Linked DNA regions of Homo sapiens. The protein of the gene in region 1 purifies or fractionates together with the protein of each later gene. This does not show direct contact. Each region holds a gene or a part of one and is shown in the gene's direction. Other genes may lie near its edges.

Region 1 (3,818 bases):
CACCACGCCCGGCCACTAATTAGAGTTTATAGGGCTTTGATAGCCACTTAAGTGGTGGTTATACTTCAGTAGATAATTAGAAATTTGAAGGACAGTGTGCCTGGGCGTTTAGCCTCATAGTAAACCTGTTTGGACTTCCACGGAAAGCAGCTAAGATACTTTTTATTTATTGTTATTCTTAGAATGGGAGAAAATCAGCCTTCCCACGGAGGGAGTGAGACCTCAAGTGAAAACCTTAGCTGTCCTCTGTATCTATGTGGCCTCAAAGCAACACTTGAATCATATATTAATACTTAGCAAGAATTCAGTGTCAGGTATGTGGGCAACAGTGCCCAGGGGAAAGAAGGCTAAACAAAATTGGTACCATCCAATTTGAATGTCCTTATAACAATTTTTTTCTCCTTCCAGTATATAAAAAAATGCGTGGGTCCCATTCAGATCTTCTGGATTTTAATATCTCCAAGTGGGGCCTGAGCATCTGCTGATTCTGACATAGGCTCCGGGTAGACAACAGCCACATATTGACAACACAGGCGGACACCTGTGAGGAGGCTCGTTTTACTAAATGCTTAGAAGCCTATTCTAAGTCTCTCAGTGATGTGATTCTCCTGTCCAAAAGTTAGAGACCACTGTTGGATTGTGGAGAGTTGTGCAGAAAGGAAAATATTTATTTTATTTATTGTAGAGACAGGGTCTCACTGTGTTGCCCAGGCTGCTCTTGAGCTCTTGGCAAGTCCATGAAAATAAGTGCTTAGAAGTTACGATGCTGCCCGGGTACCGTGGCTCATGCCTGTAATCCCAGCACTTTGGGAGGCCAAGGAGGTGGGGGGAATCACTTGAGGTTAGGAGTTCGAGACCAGCCTGGGCAGCATGGCAAAAACCCCATCTTTATGAAAAATGTAAAAATTAGCCGGGTGTTGGTGGTGTGTGCCTGTAATCCCAGCTATTCGGGAGGCTGAGGCAGGAGAATTGCTTGAACCAGGGAGGTGGAGGTTGCAGCTAGCTGAGATCGTACCACTGTACTACAGCCTGGGCAACACAGCAAGACTCCATCTCAAAAAAAAAAAAGAAGTTATGATGCATCCAAAGTGACAATAAGAATTGTTCCGGAAGGATATCTGGGAAATTCCTTGGTCTTGATGCATCCTTTCTAGCTGTCTTCCTTTCCCTTTTCTATCTTTCCTCCAACTCTGAGGTTCCAGTACTTAAACAGCTCTGTTTGCCGATCTGCAAATATGCTTGTGACTGCAAATATCTTGTCTAGTACAGGGTGCAAAGTAAGTTACACTGCAGATTCTAATAATACCTGGGATATAATACTTTTCTATTTCCTCTTGTGTGTTTTGCTTTTATGGATGCTAATTATCATTGAAGGTCTGCTGAAGGAAAATGTTTATCTTTCAAATCTTGTAGGTCAAATAGACTCTCTGAGACTTAGTTCTAGAATTAGTTTAATATTTTATTTTTTTGAGATGGAGTCTTGCTCTGTTCCTCAAGCTGGAGTACGATGGCGCGATGTCAGCTCACTGCAACCTCCGTCTCCCGGGTTCAAGCGATTCTCCTGCCTCAGCCTCCCGAGTAGCTGGGGATTACAGGCCCCTGCCACCATGCCCTGCTAATTTTTTGTATTTTTAGTAGAGACGGGGTTTTGCCATGTTGGTCAGGCTGTTCTCGAACTCCTGACCTCAGGTGATACACCCGCCTCGGCCTCTCAAAGTGCTGGGATTACAGGCACCATGCCCGGCCTTGCCTCTGAACTTTTAAAGACCATTGTGAGTATTGATTATCTGTAGAAGCTTACAAGATTTCCTTATCTTTGGTATTCAAAAGATCCATCAGGTTGAATGTCTCAGCATCTGATGCGCCCATCCAATCTAAAGACATGCCTTAGCACATTAAAAGTTTGTATCGGTTGTCTACTGTATTGTCTCTTGTTCTCATGTTCTTGAACTCCTGTTAGATTGTTGGCCATATGGATCTATCCTCCGTGTCTATTCATCCTTTTTTTTTTTTTTTTTTTTTAAATTATTTTAGAGACAGAGTCTCCACTTTGTCACCCAGGCTGGAGTGCACTGGTGTGATCATAGCTCACTGTAACCTCCAACTCCTGGGCTGAAGTGATCCTCCCACTTCAGCCTCTGAAGTAGCTGGGACTATAGGTGTGCTCCACCATGCCTACCTACTTTTATTTTTTTGTAGAGACACGGGTCTCAGCTCAGACTGGTCTCAAACTCCTGGGCTCAAGCAGTCCATCTGCTTCTGCCTCCCAAAGTACTGGATTACAAGCATGAGGCACCTAGCCAGGCCTCCATTCATATTTTAGTGTTTTTATCTCTTCTCTGTTGCATGAGATTTTCTGAAAATTTTTGTTCTGCAGTCATTTTAAATTCCTAGACATTTCTAGTTGTTTAATTGCTCCTTTTTTCATAGAAACCTGTTTTGTGTCTATAATGTCTCTCGTACTTTAAATATATCAAGATGTGTGTGTGCCTGTTTCTCCTTTAGGCCTCTTTCCTGGAGAGGAAGGGAGTTTTGCATGTTGTTTTATTTGTTTGTTTGTTTTTTGAGATGGGGTCTCGCTCTGTCACTCAGGCTGGAGTGCTGTGGCGTGATCTCAGCTCACTGCAGCCTCCATCAACCTGGTTCAAGCACTCCTCCCACCTCAGCCTCCCAAGTAGCTGGGACCACAGGCATGCACCATCATGCCTGGCCCAGTAATACAACAGTTACTGTATTTTTAGTAGAGACAGGTTTTCCCCGTGTTGGCCAGGCTGGTCCCAAACTGCTGAGCTCAAGTGATCGGCCCACCCCGGCATCCCAGAATACTGGCATTACAGGTGTGAGCCACCGCGCCCAGCCAGTTTTGCATGTTCTGAGTGGGAAGGTAATCTGGAGAACGGGCAGCCAGGCTTCCTTGTTGAATGCGTGAGAGGGAGCAGGCTGGTAACTACCGCCTTTGTCAAAGAAAGGAGGGTTTCCTTCTATATTCTTCAGTCCAACCCCTTCCCCGCTTTTTAAAACCATCCTTGAGTTTCAGAGTTAGCTCCTGATCTGGTCTGCTTCTCTTTCAGGTCCATTCACCTTTGCAAGCCATTCTAAGGCTATCACCCATTTTCTTTGGGGTATTCTTTGGTTCTATGGAGCAACCAAAAGCCACCCTTCCCGGCTTTGTCTGTGAGAGAGGGGACACATGTAACTAGTGCCACCGTTCACTTTCATTCTTGAACGAATTGCCCTAACAGTTACCCCCTCAGCTTCTCCTGCCCTTTCTATTTCTTGATTCAGCTTGGAGTTTCTTCAAGGTGCTCTTGGGAAAACCACATTTACCTTTGGTAACTTGTACTGCCCTTTCCTTCTGGTTTCTCTGTTAATTCAAACTTGTTTCTGTCTTCTTGGAATTCCTCCAAATATTTGCTCCATTGATGTCATGCATCCCTTCTTGTTTTCCAATGTTATTGATGCATTCTTTAAAAAATTTTAAAGAGGCCAGGCGCGGTGGCTCACGCCTGTAATCCCAGCACTTTGGGAGGCCAAGGCGGGCAGATTGGGAGTTCCAGACCAACCTGGCCAGCATAGTGAAACCCTGTCTCTACTAAAAATACAAAAATTAGCCATGCGTGGTGGCGGGTGCCTGTAATCCCATCAGCGACTCAGAAAGCTGAGGGAGGAGAATTGCTTGAACCTGGGAGGCAGAGGTTTCAGTGAGCCGAGATGGCGCCATTGCACTCCAGACTAGGCAACAGAGCGAGACTCCGTCTCAAAAAAAAAAAAAAAATTTAAATATAGGCACTTTATTTCTTCAAGATCTTAGGAAGGAG
Region 2 (3,594 bases), on another chromosome or scaffold:
CTTGATGTACACCAGCAGGGGCCCTGCATCACCTATTTGAAGCAGCATTGGTACTCAGCTGGAAAGGCAGGAAAACTCTCAGAACGTAGAGTGTGTTTTTATTCAGGCCCTGCTCACAGCACACCCTCCTAGTCTAGATGGCCAGGTTCTTTACATGTGCTTGTTTTGTTCACAGCGGGCCAATCCGAGCCTACATCCTTGCCCACAAGGATGCCATCCAGCTCTGGAGGACGCTCATGGGACCCACCAGAGTGTTCCGAGCACGCCATGTGGCCCCAGATTCTATCCGTGGGAGTTTCGGCCTCACTGACACCCGCAACACCACCCATGGTTCGGGTGAGTCCCCTGTCCATAGCCATAGGATATTTTGGGGTTAGCGGGCAGGCTGTGTGGTAGAGTTGACAGCCAGGTCCCTCCAGTGAGCTTTCTTCCATTTGTGTTTCTGGTCTTTGTAGCCATGTTGGCAGATGTGGCCTGTGGACTTTCTTTACATGCCCCAGGACTGAAGGGGCAGGCAGAGTAGAGGCTCAGGATTCTGAACCTGATTATGACTGCCTCTTGCTTCTACCATGTGAGAACCCCTTCTCTGTCTTATCTCCCCTTACAGACTCTGTGGTTTCAGCCAGCAGAGAGATTGCAGCCTTCTTCCCTGACTTCAGTGAACAGCGCTGGTATGAGGAGGAAGAGCCCCAGTTGCGCTGTGGCCCTGTGTGCTATAGCCCAGAGGGAGGTGTCCACTATGTAGCTGGAACAGGAGGCCTAGGACCAGCCTGATGCAGGTCTATGAAGACCAGTGGTAGTGCCCAGACTTCTCCTAGACATCTAGTCTAAAACATTCTCCTAGGACCAGGGAAGCCTGGCTTACAGTGCCATTTCTGCTGGGCACCACCACCTGCCTGAGGGCCTAGCTCACCACAGCACATCCTCCAGGATCTAGCCTTCTATCTACCTCTTCTCTGGAATGTTTATGGTGGTTCAGAAGAATGATGACTCCTCTTTGCTGAGAACTGTTCATCCTTCTTCAAGAAGAAGCTTGCCAGGCCGGGCACGGTGGCTCACGCCTATAATCCCAGCACTTTGGGAGGCCGAGGCAGGCGGATCACAAGGTCAGGAATTCGAGACCAGCCTGACCAACATGGTGAAACCCCATCTCTACTAAAAATACAACAATTAGCCAGGCATGGTGGTGCATGCCTGTAATCCCAGCTACTCAGAGGCTGAGGCAGGAGAATTGCTTGAACCTGGGAGGCAGAGGGTGCAGTGAGCCGAGATCGTGCCATTGCACTCCAGCCTGGGCGACATTCTGTCTCAAAAAAAAAAAAAAAGAAGCTTGTCTAATTGACTTGCCTAAAAAATGCAGTGACTCCAAACAACATTTGACCTGTCTTCCTCAATAAAAGTCAGTGTTCTCCTGAATCCTTTATGCTGCCACATTTAGGGGAAACTTTTCAGGCTTCATCATTCTGACTTCTCAGCAGCATTCAGTTATTGCTTCATTCTCCAGAAACACTCTCTTCTCTTGGATTTTCTGATCCCACACCCTTGGTTTTCTCCTTCTGTGTGTTTTTCTTCATCTCCTTTATCAGCTTATGCAAACATTTATTTTCATAAATTCTCTATTCAAGACATACTGAAAAATGCAAAGATGGTTAAGACATGATTGGGTCCTCAAGTTGCTAATTATGAATTTGGGTGGTCAGCCAGCTATAACGTGGCAGAGATGGAGAAGTGCCCTAACAGAGGTATAAAGTCCTGTGGGAGAACAGAGGAAAGAAGGTTTCCTTTGGCTGGGTGAGGAGGTGAAGGAGATAGGGTGGAAAGTCTTTTATAAAAGATATAGCTGGCTTTGGAACTAAGCCTGAAGGTCAAATAGGGTATCCATAGCAGGGGTCTGGGGCACTAGACAGTCTGTTCATTTTCAGGAATATATGGGTCAGTTTTGTATGTGTGACCTAAGAAACCTGTGACACTTCTTACAGGTCTTGACTTTTCTTTCTCAGTACATGTGTATTTCTCTTTTTGGTGGCCTTGAAACCTTTGAGTTGAAAATTGCCTTCACCATCTGCCACTTTCACTAATGGTAGACCAGGAAATTTGGACCCACTGAACATAGAGAACAACTAGAAAAGCTGTGCAAAATATAAACAGCATCTATCTGAAAGCATCAGCTGGCAATATAGAACCAAAATTCAGGACACGAAGGAAACTCAAGAGAAGTGAGCCTGGGACTTAGAGCTACTTTTCCCATAAGGGCACCTGCTGATTCTGGAAGAGGCAGCTAAGAAGCTGAGTAGAACTTTCAACAACTTCTTGTGTTAGGGAGCCAGCTTCATGAATGCTGGCAGAAAACACAGGATTACTTGGGCAGAGACTACTGCTCAGGGCACAGCAGGCAGTGTGTTAGCCTTGGTCTCCCTTGCCCTCCAAGTCCCACAGGGCAATACTGGCAGGCCCAGGAAAGTGTTACACACTGCAGGTTTGCATGACGGCTAAGGAACCACAATCTTAGGGAGATACTATCTCTGTCTTCTAAGGCCATTTGCTGTACAAAAATCCTTGAAATACCTGGGCACAGTGGCACACCTATAATCCTAGCACTTTGGGAGGCTGAGGCAGGCGGATCACCTGAGGTTGGGAGTTCCAGACCAGCCTGACCAACATGGAGAAATCCCGTCTCTACTAAAAATACAAAAATTAGCCAAGCGTGGTGGCGCGAGCCTGTAATCCAGCTACTCGGGAGGCTGAGGCAGGAGAATCGCTTGAACCCAGGAGGCGGAGGTTGTGGTGAGCCAAGATCACGCCGTTGCACTCCAGCCTGGGCAACAAGAGTGAAACTCCATCTCAAGAAAAAAAAAATCCTTGAAATAGTCTGGAACAAAATCTGTCAACATCTCAGCCCACAAAGTATCAACAAAATTGATATTTTGTTGCATTTAAAAAATTTAAATGGTGGTCAAAGCGTACAAAATCTGACAATTAAGACACCCACAAGAGACACAGAATTATCTCCCAATAAAATTGTCTCATAAAAACCTGGCTCCCACAAATATGGAAAGGGAGAAAACTAGAATAAACCCTGTGGTGTCGAATTGGAGATATCAGTGTGAACTCGTGTATTTCAGTCTATAGAGATAGATGTAAATATGTTTTTGTATGTATAGTCCTTTGCACTGATGTGAGAGCAATGACACTCCAATAGTAATGACCACACCCAGCACCCAGGTCCACCAAAAGACAAAGTGCTATGGACTGAATTATATCCCCCTAAAATTCATATGTTGAAGCCCTAACCCCCAATGTGATGATATTTGGAAATGGGACATTTGGGAGATAATTAAGTTTAGATGGCCAGGTATGGTGGCTCACGCCTGTAATCCCAGCACTTTGGGAGGCCAAGGCGGGCGGATCACAAGGTCAGGAGATCGAGACCATCCTGGCTAACACGGTGAAACCCCGTCTCTTCTAAAAATACAAAAATTAGCTGGGTGTGGTGGCACGCACCTGTAGTCCCAGCTACTTGGGAGGCTGAGGCAGAAGAATTGCTTGAACCCAGGAGGTAGAGTTTGCAGTGAGCCAAGGTAGTGCTACTGCACT

What was found.
Region 2: the proteins of NOCT (region 1) and NME6 purify together in Homo sapiens (affinity purification with mass spectrometry; one large-scale study listed by BioGRID and IntAct). This does not show direct contact.

Annotation. Positions count from the first base shown.
Region 1 is NC_000004.12:139,022,045-139,025,862, forward strand, and holds part of NOCT (nocturnin), read left to right. Parts: intron 1-3,818. UniProt on the Homo sapiens protein: Phosphatase which catalyzes the conversion of NADP(+) to NAD(+) and of NADPH to NADH. Shows a small preference for NADPH over NADP(+). Represses translation and promotes degradation of target mRNA molecules.
Region 2 is NC_000003.12:48,291,817-48,295,410, reverse strand, and holds the end of NME6 (nucleoside diphosphate kinase 6), read left to right. Parts: intron 1-175; coding exon 176-336; intron 337-607; coding exon 608-774; 3' UTR 775-3,094; downstream 3,095-3,594. UniProt on the Homo sapiens protein: Major role in the synthesis of nucleoside triphosphates other than ATP. The ATP gamma phosphate is transferred to the NDP beta phosphate via a ping-pong mechanism, using a phosphorylated active-site intermediate. Inhibitor of p53-induced apoptosis.